3 linked regions of the Homo sapiens genome follow. The protein of the gene in region 1 interacts with the protein of each later gene in a biochemical or structural test. Each region holds a gene or a part of one and is shown in the gene's direction. Other genes may lie near its edges.

Region 1 (3,310 bases):
TGTCATCTGGACTTACCAGTTCATGCCAGTGTCCCTGTGACTTATGCATAGTGTGCGCCACAGCCCTCTAGAGGTACCTGGAGCCCGGACTGCCAGGCTGGAGGCTCTGGGGTACTGAAGGTGAGCTGTCTGGGCAAACTATTAAGAACAAGACGAACTGTTCACAATGGAGCTTCTCCCACAGATGGGGAGCTCTGTGAGGCCTTCACCTGGGTGCATGTTGGACTTCCATTGCTGTTGCTGTTGTCCCTAGACAAGCCCGTTAGCAAGAAGCACCGGCAGGGGAGCCATGCACTCCATAGGCTTGGGATCACCCCCGGGAAAGCGATCTTCCCCGGGCTACCACCCCCAGCTGCAGTTCTGTGTTAGTGCATCCTTCAAAGCTAGGAGAATTCTAGGGTGACCAGTGAGCTAATGTTGAGTGAGCAGGTATTGACTTGAACACACTGCAGGCCTTTGGCTGTCTCATGCTGTCCTTACTCTTCTTGGGAACAGTGAGTCACTCAGCTGGCCAGGGTGGGGATGCATCCTGGTGAAGAGACAGCTTTCCCTGAAGATGCTACAGAAAGTTACTGTCAGATTTCATTTGTTTCTGTTTCCTGAGATCAACTAACAGAAGAATCTAATGGTGAGAGTGTCTTCATTCATGTTTTACGTTTTATCAAGGCACACTGGAAAGGGAATTATGTGGCTGACTTCCCTTGGCCTTCCCAAGAGAAGATTCTGTTCTTATGTCAGTGTGGCTTCTGGAAGTGTCTCCTATCCTCCCATCCTCCAGGCCTGTGGTGTGACTTCTGCCCCGAAGTTCCTACTATAGTGAGTCATCTGGGGAGAGGCCACTGAAAAGAGGCCTTCCCTTCCCATTTCCTCCCCTGCCTCCTTAGAACACACTCTAAGTCAGAACTTAATCTAAGAAGAAGGAAGCTGGACCAGGAACCTTGGAAGTCAGCCAGCCCTAGAACAGTCAGCCTAAATTTTGGCCGTAATGGCTTTTTTGGTTTTTTGTTTTGTTTCTGAGATGGAGTCTCACTCCGTTGCCAGGCTGGAGTGCTGTGGCGCTATCTCAGCTTACCGAATCCTCCGACTCCCTGGTTCAAGCGATTGTCCTGCCTCAGCCTCCGGAGTAGCTGGGATTACAGGCATGCACCACCACACCCAGCTAATTTTTGTATTTTTAGTAGAGACGGGGTTTCACCGTGTTGTCCAGGATGGTCTCCATCTCCTGACCTCATGATGTGCCCACTTCGGCCTTCCAAAGTGGCCGCAAAGTGGCCCACTTCGGCCAAAGTGCACTTCGGCCTTCCAAAGTGCATTACAGGCGTGAGCCACCACGCCCGGCCTGGCCTTTTTTTTTTTTTTCTTTTGAGACACAGTTTCACTCGTTGCCCAGGCTGGAGTGCAGTGGCGCAATCTCGGCTCACTGCAACTTCTGCCTCCTAGGTTCAAGCAGTTCTCCTGCCTCAGCCTCCCAAGTAGTTGGGATTACGGGCATGCACCACCATGCCTGGATAATTTTTTCTTATTTTTAGTAGAGACAGGATTTCATCATGTTGGCCACGCTGGTTTCGAACTCCTGACCACATGTGGTCCACCCACCTTGGCCTCAATTATGTGCATTTTGGTATATTTACTTGTATTTCAACATCTTGTGAGTTTGAAAAACCTGAAAGGCCAGAATGCTTCCTTTTATTTCTCACCATTTGGGCAGCACCTAAGTGGTTTTGTAAAATGCAGCATCTGGTGCTGTGGGTCTCTCTCAGGCCTTGAGGGACACTTCCTTCCTCCCCACTCGCCTCCTCTCCACTAGACTTTGGTTCCTAGAGGGCGTGGGGCCGGGTCTGAGGTTCTTGCCTGCCTTCCCTCCCATTGGTCTTTGGTTGCTCATCCCTCTAACTGCACCCCTTCTTGGTCCTTCCTCCACAGACTTCAGATAATAGATAAGTCATTAGCAAACCAGACCGAATCTTTAGGGTGAAGAGCTCCCCAAAGCCATCTGGTGAGGTCATTGTGGGGACCAGGGACTGATTATTTGTCACCTGGATCACAAAGATGGGACTGTCTGCTCAGGCTGGTGGTGACAGGATCCTGACCCGTGGTCCTCTCCCGCTCCCTCTGCTCCACCAGGACACATGTATAGGACACTGTGCTGTGTGCAGTGGAGAAATCTCCCTGGGCCAGGGGAAAGTTCAGACAGTGCCTCTAGATTGTGTTTTGCCTCCTCCAATGTAGAGTTGACATCTGGACCCCAGAGCCCAGCAGGGCTTTCTGTCAGACATGCTAGGGTGGTAGAAATGGGCCCTCCAGGTCCCCCTGCAGTGCACTGGGCAGAGACCTCCGGAAAGCCGGCAGCGGGAGCGCTTCCTGGGCAGCTTCCCCCAGCACAGTGTTCCCAAACCAGTCCATCCGGAAAACAGTCTGTACAGCAAATGCTGTGTGAGATCTTAGGCTTTTCACTTTTTTTGTTTTGTTTTGTTTTTGAAAGAAAGAAAAAAATACAATTAACAAGCCTCTTTTGTAAATGGGTTTCCTTTCTATGTATAAAATCGTGGTGGTCCCTTGTTTTTACATGTTCATGCTGTGTAATTTTGAGATGTTACTGAGATATGTTCTGAACATAATGTGCATTTTTTTCTGTACAGATGAAATGGGAGAATTTAATAAAGAGTTTGCAGGTTTTTACTTGTTAAATCTTCTCTGTGGTGACTGGGAGGAACCTCAACCACCTCTCTGCTAGTGGAAGCAGTGGCCTTGAACTTGCCAACTGATGCTCACAAACCTTGCTGATCAGGTCCTTAGTTCTTGACCAGTTAGGTTCAGCAGAGTAGGACTCAAGGACTTTTAGAGGACTAGGGACCTTGATCCCCTTGGTTTCTGTATGCTGCTAGTAGCAGAGCTGGAAGTCACGTCTGGGGTTTTCTGACTCTTGAGCCAATGTGTCCAGAATTATTCATTCTACTGATATGTTTAAGCCCACATCATGAGGCTCTGTCCTGGGGAGAGCAGAATCTGGCAGCTCTGTGTACAGATCTGACGTGTGGATGGCTGGTCCTGAGAGGCGCCTGATCTTCAGTGGCCACCCTTCCCCATCACCCCCTTGTCAGTCTTCTCCCTCACATTCCAGCAGCCCAGTCCCTGCGTCAGTAGCCTTTCCAGACCTCCTCCCTGAGCCTTCTGCTGCTGCCTGTCTCGGCGAAGTTAATTTGCGTCTGCGTGTTAAAAATGAATGGCTTCAGGAATTTGCATGGTAGCAGGGGTTTCTTGAAGTGGTAATATCCATACTACGATTTGAGGAATGAGATGTGCTGCGAGA
Region 2 (5,239 bases), on another chromosome or scaffold:
TACCATGTGTTAGGCTTCGTTCTAAGAACTTGATATTTAATCCTCGTAATAGCCCTATGAGCTTGATAAATTTGTTACTTTCACTTTATAGATGAGTAAATGGAGAAATAGATTAAGATGACTTGCACTAGGACACTAGGGTTTTTTTGGTTTTGTTTTTTGGGGGTTTTTTTGTTTTTGTTTTTGAGACAGTCTTGTGCTTGTCACCCAGGCTAGAGTGCAGTGGTGCAATCTCGGCTCACTGCAACCTCCGCCTCCCGGGTTCAAGCGATTCTCCTGCCTCAGCCTCCCGAGTAGCTGGGATTACAGCCACCTGCTACCATGCCTGGCTAATTTTTGTATTTTTAGTAGAGACAGGGTTTCACCATCTTGGCTTCCCAAAGTGCTGGGATTACAAGCGTAACCCGCCATGCCTGGCCCCGGCTAACTTTTGTATTTTTTGTAGAGACGGGATTTCACCATGTTGCCCAGGCTGGGACTGTTTCTGTTGACTCCCCCCTTACCCCTAGTTTTAGGTCACTTTTTTGCTGCTTTGCAAGTTTAGTGATTTTTTTTTTTTTTTAACTTCGATGCTGGACAGTGTGAATGTTAAGTGATGAATTTTATGGTCTTTCTTTAAAGAGTGTTGAATTTTGTCTTGGTAGGCAGCTAAGTTACTTGTGGATCAACTTGTTTTTAATTTTTTGTTTTTGTTTTTAAATTGTGAGATGGAGTTTCACTCTTGTTGCCTAGGTTGGAGAGCAATGGCACGATCTCGGCTCACTGCAACCTCTGCCCTCCCCCGGTTTAAATGATTCTCCTGCCTCAGCCGTCCGAGTAGCTGAGATTACAGGCAACTGCCACGATGCCCGGCTAATTTTTTGCAGTTGTAGAAGAGATGGGGTTTCACCATGTTGGCCAGGCTAGTCTCGAACTCCTGACCTCAGGTGATCCACCCGTCTGGGCTACCCACAGTGCTGGGATTACAGGTTTGAGCCACCGCGCCTGGCCGCTTTTAATCTTTATTAGGGCATGTCTAGGGTGGTCTATACTCTAGGACTGGTTTAGCCCTACTACTAAGATGTGAATTTTCTAGTATTCCTTCTGAATGTCCTGGTTTTTAGTGAGGCTTTTGCTCTCTGGCTAGTTGGCAATCACATTTTTCCCAGCTCTACTGAACTCTTAGAATTGTTCACTTTCTGGTAGGTGTTCTTTGCCTAGCTTTGTGGAATTTCTCACCCTAACACATGTAGCTTTAGCTTTCAGCCCAAGACTCAAGGAACACCTTGCAGATTTCTAGACCTCTTTATCTGTGTAGGTCCCCCTTCTCCAGTAGTCTGCTTTGCACACTGCAGCTGCCTTAGCTACCCTGAACTCTGATCTCTGCTGCCTTAACGTGATGGGACTGCTGTGCTCTGCTTGGGTTCTTCCTGCCTGCTCTGCTGCCTGGGACGTGCCTCTAGGTGGTAAGCTTAGGCAGTTGTCAGGCTCACATAGGCTGCACTCAAGTGTCACAGTTCTGGGCTGCTTTTGACTAGTGTCTGAAAACAGTTTTTTCGTATATTTTATGGAGATTTCTAATTACAATGAGAGGGCAGCTTTAGGAATGATTACTTCATCATAGGCCTATGTTGTTTAGTATTAAGTATAGGAAAATAATTGTGTCTCTGTCCAGTTGAATGGTAATATATTTTAAGACAGCAACTTAAAATTTTAAGATAGTCCGCTAGAACTTTCTTTGATGATGAAAATGTTCTGTTCCTGTGGGGTGTAGCCACTGGCCATACGTCACTATTGTATACGTGAAATGTGGCTAGTGCCACTGAAGAGATGAATTTTTAAATTAATTTAAATAGCTCTATGTGGGTAATGGCTCCTGTAATGGACAGTGTGGCTGAAGGTTTTCTCTCAGTATTAGAAAATCTCGACCTTACAACGTTTGCATTTAAAAAAGATGCCTGTGGTTGATCTTTAACATATTCTAATTTAGAAAAATATAGTTTTTTTAAGTATAAAAATAGTTGCATGTTCATTGGAGATCATTTGGAAAATGCAGAAAGCACAAAAAAAGTTGAGCACACATAATCCCAAAGATAAGTAAGATTAATATTTTGGTGTATTTCCTTCCAGTTTTCTATAAAGAAGAACCCACTTTAGTGAAAAATCGTTTGGTTTTATTTTAAATATTTCTCTCTCAAAAGGAAATATGTATGGATGGCAAGGTTAAAATTGTGAAAATTTGTATCCTTCCAGAATTAGCTTTATATTGTTATCAAATAATAGCATGGCCTAAACAGGCTTTCCTACCTCTATAGGCTGTATATGTGTAGCAGTTTCAGGAATAACATATTAATCAGGAAGCTTTTTTTTTTAGTCTATTAGTTGCAGACTGGTGTTTAATAGAAAACTTATTTGGCTATTGGCTGCTTTTTGACTTCAGCTGGAAGGAAGCTCAAACATAATATTTGGCTCATTTCCACATAAGACTAAGGGTTACTGACTCTGGTCTGAAGACTGCTTGCAGTTTAGTCGTCTGAGTGACTCCTGTGGCTGAGGATGTGCTGGGTGCTTAGAATCCAAAGGTCTGGCTAGGCTTAAGGGGTTCATGGTCTAGTTAGGGAGAAAAACATGGCAGATTTTCTTCTGTTTTTCTTGGGGCAAAATCAGATTTTACTGTTTAATAGTACAAAATTTTTGCAAAATTAGCAGATAATACTCATCATTTCTAACTTCTGAAATCTTTTGTTTAGGTGAGACATGGAATCCATTAAAATTGCATTATCAGTTAAGAAATGTACGGGAACGATTAGCTAAAAACCTGGTGGAAAAGGGTGTATTGACAACAGAGAAACAGAACTTCCTACTTTTTGACATGACAACACATCCCCTCACCAATAACAACATTAAGCAGCGCCTCATCAAGAAAGTACAGGAAGCCGTTCTTGACAAATGGGTGAATGACCCTCACCGCATGGACAGGCGCTTGCTGGCCCTCATTTACCTGGCTCATGCCTCGGACGTCCTGGAGAATGCTTTTGCTCCTCTTCTGGACGAGCAGTATGATTTGGCTACCAAGAGAGTGCGGCAGCTTCTCGACTTAGACCCTGAAGTGGAATGTCTGAAGGCCAACACCAATGAGGTTCTGTGGGCGGTGGTGGCGGCGTTCACCAAGTAACTCTGCTCGGGGTGAACCATTCTCCTTTCTCTCAAGTAAACCAGTAGTTTTTCTTCTGTTGACTTCTGGTTTTCTGTAATTTGTACTTTCCCACACTATAATTGGCTTCTGTTTTACAAAATGGTGGGTGGCTTTTTCTTTTTTGTACGTGTACAGGATTCTGCTGGTACGAGAGGCCTTCCTCTTTCTGTTTTTAAAAAAAGTTTTACTGCCATATTGGCATTCCATTCCCTGTTGCCATCCTCACTGTTACCTGTTTTGGGTTTCTGGTCTACTTTGACTTTCAAAGTACCTCCAGCCTCCTCATACGCACAGCTTTTGGATGACCTCAGCTTGAGTTTCTCCATATGTGCATGTACATCTAGCATTCTGCCTACAGTTCAGACAGAAGTCACAAAAAGGCCTTCAACTCACCAAAGGTAAATATCTGTATCTATTAGGACATTTTTTACATAGACTTCAGTTGAGATGTATACTTAGCAAAATTATTTTTAAATTGAAACAGCACAGTAAATACTTAATATAAAATGTCCCTTGGATTTTGCTTCCCATGTAAATCTATTGTATTATTACACTTGTTATAATTTTAACTATAAAGGTCCAATTGTTTCACAGAGCCAGTTTGGGATGGGCTGCATTCCATTTATGCTGTATATAGTTTGAATTATATATAAATTACCCCTTCTTCTGGCCACCCCTGCTCCCATCTTAGTATTTTGCAAGATCTAATCAGTTGTACACCTGGTGCCCCTCGCTTGCTTCAATCATGGTTATTTGATGGCAAAATCGACCTCTTGTCGCTGAAGGAGAGAGAAAAGATGTGTGTCTGATTGGTCCTGGGATTTTTTGAGCTGTGCCATTTATGGTACTCTTTGCCTATGCATCCCCTTGTTAGATTTTTTTTAAATTTTATCTTACTGTTTTTATAATTTCTATTGGGAAGAGGCTTGTGACCAGTACCAATCTTGAGTTTCTTTTTCTGTCCACAAGTAAATTAATATCTGCTCTGAAATGTCATTTATCTACTCACACATTCTTGGGGAAAAAAATCAAATGTCAGTCCTAGCAGATGTTGCATGTAAATTGGTAGCAAGTAATGATTACAACCCAGAGGATTAAGAATTTTGTAACAGAAAGCTCTATGTTTTAATTTTTTATATACAATTAGGATAATTAGCATTGTCAGACTATAAACCTTTGCTTTTTAAAGTTTATTTTTACTATTTCTTTATCACTTTATTGTATCATCACCATTGGTTTCATAATGTAAATACTATATGTTGAACAAATTAAATGTCAAAATTTTTTATTACCATAGTCCATGTTAATAGTGGGGCTTTCAGGTGTTTAGAGATTTTTTTTGTTGTTGTTAACATTCATTGCAAAAGTACTAGATGGTGTATAACTCTAGAGTTGAATTTTAAGGGATTCCCTAATATGTATACTATCTTTTTATCTGAAGTAATAAATAAACAATGATCTTGAAAGTGCCTGAATCAGAGCAAGCATGTCATTTGTGTTTTTGTATTCTCATTTAGTTTTCTTTCAAATGAAATGTTACTTACTGTAGCATTGTAATATTTTAATGCAGGGCTTGGGTTTCTTAAAGGGCCAGATAGTAGATATTTTAGGCTTTGTGAGCCGCCAGCTGTGTCAGTTGCAACTACTGAACTTTACTGAATGAAAACTGTTATAGATAATACAAATAAATAGGTTAGACTGTGTTCCAATAAAACTTTATTTGCAAAAACGGGGCTGGTCAAGGCCCCAGTTTTAATGCATGGAAAAAAGACAGATTTTTCTATCCATTGGAGTAACCTTCTTTACCTTCAAAAATGATACTGCTGGTGGTAACTACATGTAGGAACTATTAAAGTGTCTTCCCATAAAGTAGATATTGGGAAACTGATACCAGTATACTGGAATTTCTTATCGAGTGAAAAGTTCCTGTTTTTCACTTGAGAAGATGTTAGAGGTGAGGTAATAGATTTCTGAGGTATTCACTTCATCAGCAGCATCAGTATTCCCAAGCAAGGGGGAAAAGGACCTCACCTGAACTTCTGTCAGTGTTTGCATTAGACCAGA
Region 3 (7,135 bases), on another chromosome or scaffold:
TCCTCTGTGCATCTTTATAAGGCAAATATCAACAGTTGGATTACGCGGTGGCTCACGCCTGTAATCCCAGCACTTTGGGGAGCCGAGGTGAGTGAATCACTTGAGGCCAGGAGTTCAAGACTAGCCTGGCCAACATGGTGAAACCCCGTCTCTACTAAAAATAAAAAATTAGCCATGTGTGGCGGCGGGTGCCTGTAATCCCAGGTACTCGGGAGGCTGAGGCAGGAGAATCACTTGAACCTGGGAGGCGGAGGTTGCAATGAGCCAAGATTGCACCACTGCACTCCAGCCTGGATGACAGAGTGAGACCCTGCCTCAAAAAAAAAAAAAAAAAAAAAAAAAAAAAATATATATATATATATATATATATATATACACACACACACACACACACACATACATAAACAATTGAGGATTATTTTAATTTTTGAAAATTTTTAAAAATAATTTTAGCTTTTCTCTTTTTTCCCTAAATGTCTCCTTATTTAATGGAACATTTATTTTATAGTACAGTTAGTCTTAAGGTCCTGAGTCTTGTGATATAACCAGAAATTTCCCTGGCTTCTCTACTAGTATACATCATCATCCTTCATTTGTAACTTTTTGCTGTGTTTTCTCATCACACTATTCCCTCATGAAGAAGTTACGAAGGTAACATTTTAAACAATCTGCTTTCTTTCCAGGAAAGCCTTAAATAACCGCCCCCCCTCGCCCACCGCCTGCAAGAAAAGAAAGAGGTATATTTATTACTGGCCTCAGTTTTGAAAACATACAAAATTAGAATGTTATTTTAGATTTTAAAAGTACTAAATTTGGCTTTGATAATTATCCTTAGCTAGAAGTGAATTGGCTGCATACAAGTAGTAACAGCTCTTCTTTTCTACATAATTCTTCGACTTGGAAATACCATTGTTGTTTAGATTTTGCCTTTCATTTATTTACTATTTTCCTTTTTACTTTTTTTCTTGTTAAATTACCAACTTGAACAAAATTTACAGACCAGTTATAGTCTGTGTATTGTTAAAACTAATATTAGAGACATGCTTATGTGTACCTGGCCAAGATGTAGGTATATCAGAAATTCTTGCCCGGAAATATATTTTCCTGTTTGCTGAGAAGTTGATGAGCCTTCAGTTTTATAAAAGGCAAATAAACGAAAAGGCAAAACCAGCTCTCCAAGAGAATGTCAGAATAGGACTGAAGATTAGGTGATATAAATACTCTTTTGAGACGTTTACACATTACCTAGGAAACAGTCACTGACTGTATAAAAAGAGGATATAGAACTAAAAGCTATTTGGTTTGTTTTAGCTTTGAATAGGAATGATTAATTTCCTGCTGACCTTATGCACTGGAATTTTTGCTTTTGGGCTTGTCTTCATGTGTTTATAATGGTTAATATAAATTTTAGGAAATAGAATAAAAAATAAAGCAGCTCATTAAGAGCTATGGCCATGGTGAGTACTTAACATATTGGTGAGATACTGTACAAAATAAGCAGATGGCTGGATGCAATGGCTAATTCCTGTAATCCTAACACTTGGGAGGCCAAGGTAAGAGGATTGCTTGGGCCCAGGAGTTCAAGACCAGCCTGGGCAACATGGTGAGACACCATCTCTACAAAAAATTTAAAACAAAAAAATTAGCTGGACATGGTGGCACATGCCTGTAGTCCTAGCTACTCAGGAGGCTGAGTCAAGAGGATGGCTTAAGCCTCGGAGGTCGAGGCTTCAGTGAACCAGGATTGTGTCACTGCACTCCAGCCTGAACAACAGAGCAAGGCCTCAAAAAATAATAAATAATAGCACATAACAATTAACCACCTTTTGAATTGCTCTAATTTTATTTTTGAGGATAGTTAACAAATATTTAGCTTTCATTTGGCTCAGGAAGAATAAAAGACAATAAATCCTTAGGTGTAAATGAATAGAAGAGGTCAAACTTTGTGATTTATTTAAATAGTAGTAGTTACAAAAGGCCAGTTACATAACTATCTCTAAAAATATTAAATTGATTCCCAACTGTACTTATTTTTTTCTTATCTCTCAAACTATCAATAGATTCATTTAATCAATATTTAATGTGATTGAGGACACCCATTATGTGCTTAGGATTATGCTAAATATTAATACTAAGGTAAATATAAAATAGTATAGTATATGGTCCCTGCCTTCAAGAAACTTGCATTCTAGCTGGAGAGACAAAAAGATACATACTTTTTAAAAGTTAAGTAACCCGAAGGTCCATCAACAGCAGAATGGATAAAAATGAATCATCAAAAAAAAAAAAGAGTCATCCATTTGTTTAAATGAGTATAAATATGTTTTCTATACAGAATGAAAATGAACATTGTTATACAACATGTATATTTCTCACATTATGTTCAATAAAAAAAGCCAAACACAAAAATATACATACTGTATGATTCCATTTATATGAAACTCAAAAAACTATTGTATTTGAGGTTGCATATTTAGGTGGTACAATTATAAACAAAATCAAGCCAGGAATTACTATAGTTTTTAGAATAGTGATTATCTTTTTGTAAGGGATAGGGGAAGGAAAAGGGTGTTAGTAATTAGGAAGGAAAATGGAGAGGATTTCTAGATAGTAACAATTTTCTGTTTCTGGACCTAGAGGAAGTTTCATAGTTTTGTTTTTGTTTTTGTTTTTGTTTTTAAGACAGAGTCTTGCTCTGTCACCCAGGTTGGAGTATAGTGGCACCATCTTGGCTCACTGCAACCTGCGCCTCCCGAGTTCAAGCAATTCTCCTGTCTCAATCTCCTGAGTAGCTGGGATTACAGGCACCCGCCACCATGCCTGGCTAATTTTTGTATTTTTAGTAGAGATGGGGTTTCACCATATTGGTCAGGCTGGTCTTGAACTCCTGACCTCTCAGGCGACCCACCCAACTTGGCCTCCCAAAGTGCTGGGATTATAGGTGTGGCCTCCCAAAGTGCTGGGATTACAGGCGTAAACTACTGCTCCCGGCCTTTTTTATTTATTTATTTATTTTTGATACGGAGTCTTGCTCTGTCCCTCCTGGCTAATTTTTGTATTCTTAGTAGGGAAGGGTTTTCAGCATGTTAGCCAGGCTAGTCTTGAACTCCTGATCTCAAGTGATCCACCTGCCTTGGCCTCCCAAAGTGCTGGGATTACAAGCGTGAGCCACTGCACCTGGGCCATAGATCTTCACTTTGGAATAATTAAGCTTTTTACTTTGTTTTGTTTATTCTTCTGTGTGTACATTATATTTCACAATGCAAAATATTTTTTTTAAAGTAAACAACAATAAAAAGCAAGTTTTTGCATGTTAGAATGAGCCAAGGGAGTTAGAGAGAGGAGAAACCATCATGAGATAGAGTAATCCGGGGAAGAATAGAAAAAGGCAGTAAAACAAGCCATGCCTTTAAAAATGGGAGGATTAACATGAATGGAGAAAAGGAAACACGTTCTGGATGAGGGAACCTGAGTGAGCAAAGGTATCATGAGCTTGATGAGTTTGGGAGATAACTGTGAGTAGGCCAGTATGACTGAAGTAGGTGGAGAACAATGGGATTCAAAATCAGTAAATTCGATTTGGACCAGATTATAGATTTTGTTACCAGGCAGAGACTTTTAGACTCTTTCCTTTAGGGAAAAGAGAATCAGCCTAATGAAAACAGCAAAGCCCATTTCATTTTTGTGTCCAAATTAAGGGCTTAATAACATTTTTATGTTCTTTGTGAGTATGTTTTAATGTGTATATAATTGCTTGTTTTTACATGGTTTGGGATTTGTGACAAGTCAAAAAAGGAAAAAATCCTAAATGTTAAATTTTGTGTCCCAAACTCCCAAACTTTTACTGGAGAGTTCCCTAAGATCCTCTGTTTAGAACCCAGTATTATCATTTTTTTAGAAACTATGTGTCTTTCAAGCAGGCACGGTGGCTCCTGTCTGTAATCCCAGCACTTTGGGAGACAGAAGGATTGCCTGAGGCCAGGAATTCTAGACCAACCTGGGCAACATAGTGAGACCTCATCTCTACAAAAAATATAAAAATTAGCCTGGCATGGTGTCACATACCTGCAGTTTCAGCTACTTGGGAGATTGAGGCGAGAGGATTGCTTGAGCCCAGGAGTTCAAGGCTGGAGTGAGCTGTGTTTGTGCCACTGTACTCCAACCTGGGTGACAGAGTGAGACCCTGTCTTAAAAGAAAAAAAAAAATTCTTCTGAGGGGTAACTACCACAGACTGGTTTTAAAATATTAAGCATCTGGCCAGACGCAGTGGCTCACATCTATAATCCCAGCACTTTGGGAGGTTTGAGGCGGGCAAATCACTTGAGGCCAGGAGTTCGAGACCAGCCTGGCCAACATGGTGAAACCCCATCTCTACTAAAGGAAAAAAAAAATTAGCTGGGTGTGGTGGCATGCACCTGTAATCCTAGCTATGCTGATGGGAGAATCTCTTGAACCCAAGAGGCAGAGGCTGCAATGAGCCAAGGTCACACTACTGCACTCTAGCCTGGGTGACAGAGTAAGACTGCCTCAAAAAATATAAACTAATTAAATTAAATATTAAGTATCATTGTCTTATGAAAACAATCAAGAAATTTAAATATAATTTGAAGAGTATAACCTTTCAAGCACAGTTAAAATTAGATACTATCTCAGTTCAATAACACTGACCTCAACTGAGAAAGTAAACATTGAGCACAAGCCTGACCAAAATAAAATAGGTTTATCTCCTGTTGAAATCAGGAATCTGCTTATTTGTTATTATTGCCTTTGGTAAGAGTTTTGATATAGATTATTAACTCATGAACAGTGTTTTAATTGACTTGCTAATGTATAAAACTTTTCATTTATTAGAATCGTTTCTTAAGTTACCTGTAAGGGGAGTAAGCCAATTACTGCTTTTGACTCCTAGTGGTCTTTTCATTTCTCATCTATTTAATTTGTGGATAATGTTTTTCAACCATCCTCTCTTTCTTGGAAAGCTTTCTCCTAGTAATGCCATTTATTGAATACTTACTACTTACTGTGAAAGAAAAGCTTTTCATCATATTTCTCATGTCACTGTGGTAAAAATTGGCAAGAAGTATTATCCATTGGAAATATGGCAATACATTTTCACTTATTTGTTTAATCACCAAAAATTTTATTGAATGACTCATATGTCATAGAAAGAGAGAACAAAAACAATTGTCCCTGCTTTTGAGGTCAATTTATGGTTTAGTGGCATAGGGATGGTTGGAGATGCTGGGAGTAGAAGCCAGAAAGTCAGCAGACCATTTCAGAACAATGTGATATGTGTATAAGTGTGTTCTGAGTAGGAAGGAAACACAGAGGAAAAGCACGTAAATCAGATGGGTGGTGGGAAGGAGCAGTAGGAGAGGGAAGAAGAGATGTTGGGAAAGACTTACAGGAGGTGATAACTCTTTTTTTTGTTGTTTGTTTGTTTGAGATAGAATCTCATTCTGTCACCCAGGCTGCAAAGCAGTGGCGTGATCTTGGCTCACTGCAACCTCCACCTCCCGGATTCAAGCGATTCTGCTTCCTCAGCCTCCCAAGTAGCTGGTATTACATGCACCTGCCACCATCCCCGGCTAATTTTTGTATTTTTGTAGAGACGGGGTTTCACCATGTTGGCCAGGCTGGTCTTGAATTCCTGACCTCAGGTGATCCAACTGCCTTGGCCTCCCAAAGTGCTGGGATTACAGGTGTGAGCCACTGCGCCCCGCCAGGAGGTAATAACTCTTAACTGGAATAAGAGTGAGTTAGTCTGTAAAGAGACAGGTTCTAGGAAAAAAGAACATCAACTGGATGTTCCTAATAATTTCAGTGATGTGCAACTGGAATAACCACAGATGTCTGAAAGCATCCCATCTCCTTTTAATGAACTCCAGTGTTTTAAAACTGAAGTATGAGAGCTGAACATCCAGTTACATGCTTTATTGTTTAAGTTTTCTAAAATTGTGAAATACAGTGTATCCAGAAAATTGTATAAAGCACATATATACAGTTTAACAAGTAGTTTGAAAGCCAACAGTCATGTAATCACCAATAGAACAATATCAGCATCCTGGAAGGCTTCTCTTATGCCTGCCCCTAATCACATGCTGCCCACTTCCCTGTAGTTTTGACATGTATGTATATCCCTAAACAATATATTTTAGTTTTGCCTGTTTTTAAACTCTATTTTATTGGGTTAATATTTTAATGTATTCTTTTGATCAATATAATGTTTGTGAGATTTGTCCATGTTGTTGCATATAGTTTAATCCAGTTCATCCTGATTAATATTTCATTACATGAATATACCACTATTCATTCTATGGGTTAATGCACATTCAAGAGTTCATTATGAACAGTGCTGCTAAAATTCTCCTGGTACTTGTCAGTTATCTTTTTTCAAACAATCTACTGTTATCCACTATACGTATGGGAATTATACGTATGAAATTCATATGTATTTTTAATTATAAAGTATGTTAATGCTACGCTTTTTCAAGCTGCTGATGATCCTCCATCAAGTATAGTTCATCTTTATTAGCAATAGGAGATTAGAAGTAAAAGCTTCTTTAAAGCTGGTAAAAAAAATTCACTAATCAAAAAGTTTTTTTTTGTTTTTTTTTTGAGACAGAGTTTCGCTCTTGTTACCTAAGCTAGAGTGTAGTGGCACGATCTTGGCTCACCGCAACCTCTGCCTCCCGCGTTCAATTCTCCTGTGTCAGCCTCCCAAGTAGCTGGGATTACAGGCATGCACCACCACGCCCGGCTAATTTTTTGTATTTTTAGTAGAAACGGGGTTTTACCACGTTAGCCAGGCTGGTGTCGAACTCCTGACCTCAGGTGATCCGCCTGCCTCGACCTCCCAAAGTGCTGGGATTACAGATGTGAGCCACCACGCCCAGCCCAAAAAGGTTTTTAAAATCAGTCACAGTCAGTCAGTGTCCAACTTGTTGATTATTGGCTATGAATGAAGAAAATTGGCCGCCTTAAAAAGTGACTCAATCCTAAAGCATTTTATTATAATTAAAATATTAATAGCAGGCCGAGCAAAGAACAAGACCTTGTCTTAAAAAAAAAAATTAAAAGTCTAATTTAAGTTACTACCTGGTCTTTCCTTTTAGTTTCCTAATCGCGCAAAAT

The links.
Region 2: the proteins of GLG1 (region 1) and GOLPH3 form a complex in vitro, tested with the Homo sapiens proteins (one study listed by BioGRID).
Region 3: the proteins of GLG1 (region 1) and GOLPH3L form a complex in vitro, tested with the Homo sapiens proteins (one study listed by BioGRID).

The regions. Positions count from the first base shown.
Region 1 is NC_000016.10:74,446,805-74,450,114, reverse strand, and holds the end of GLG1 (Golgi apparatus protein 1 isoform 3 precursor), read left to right. Parts: 3' UTR 1-2,675; downstream 2,676-3,310. UniProt on the Homo sapiens protein: Binds fibroblast growth factor and E-selectin (cell-adhesion lectin on endothelial cells mediating the binding of neutrophils).
Region 2 is NC_000005.10:32,124,127-32,129,365, reverse strand, and holds the end of GOLPH3 (Golgi phosphoprotein 3), read left to right. Parts: intron 1-2,729; coding exon 2,730-3,154; 3' UTR 3,155-4,650; downstream 4,651-5,239. UniProt on the Homo sapiens protein: Phosphatidylinositol-4-phosphate-binding protein that links Golgi membranes to the cytoskeleton and may participate in the tensile force required for vesicle budding from the Golgi.
Region 3 is NC_000001.11:150,687,060-150,694,194, reverse strand, and holds part of GOLPH3L (Golgi phosphoprotein 3-like), read left to right. Parts: intron 1-7,135. UniProt on the Homo sapiens protein: Phosphatidylinositol-4-phosphate-binding protein that may antagonize the action of GOLPH3 which is required for the process of vesicle budding at the Golgi and anterograde transport to the plasma membrane.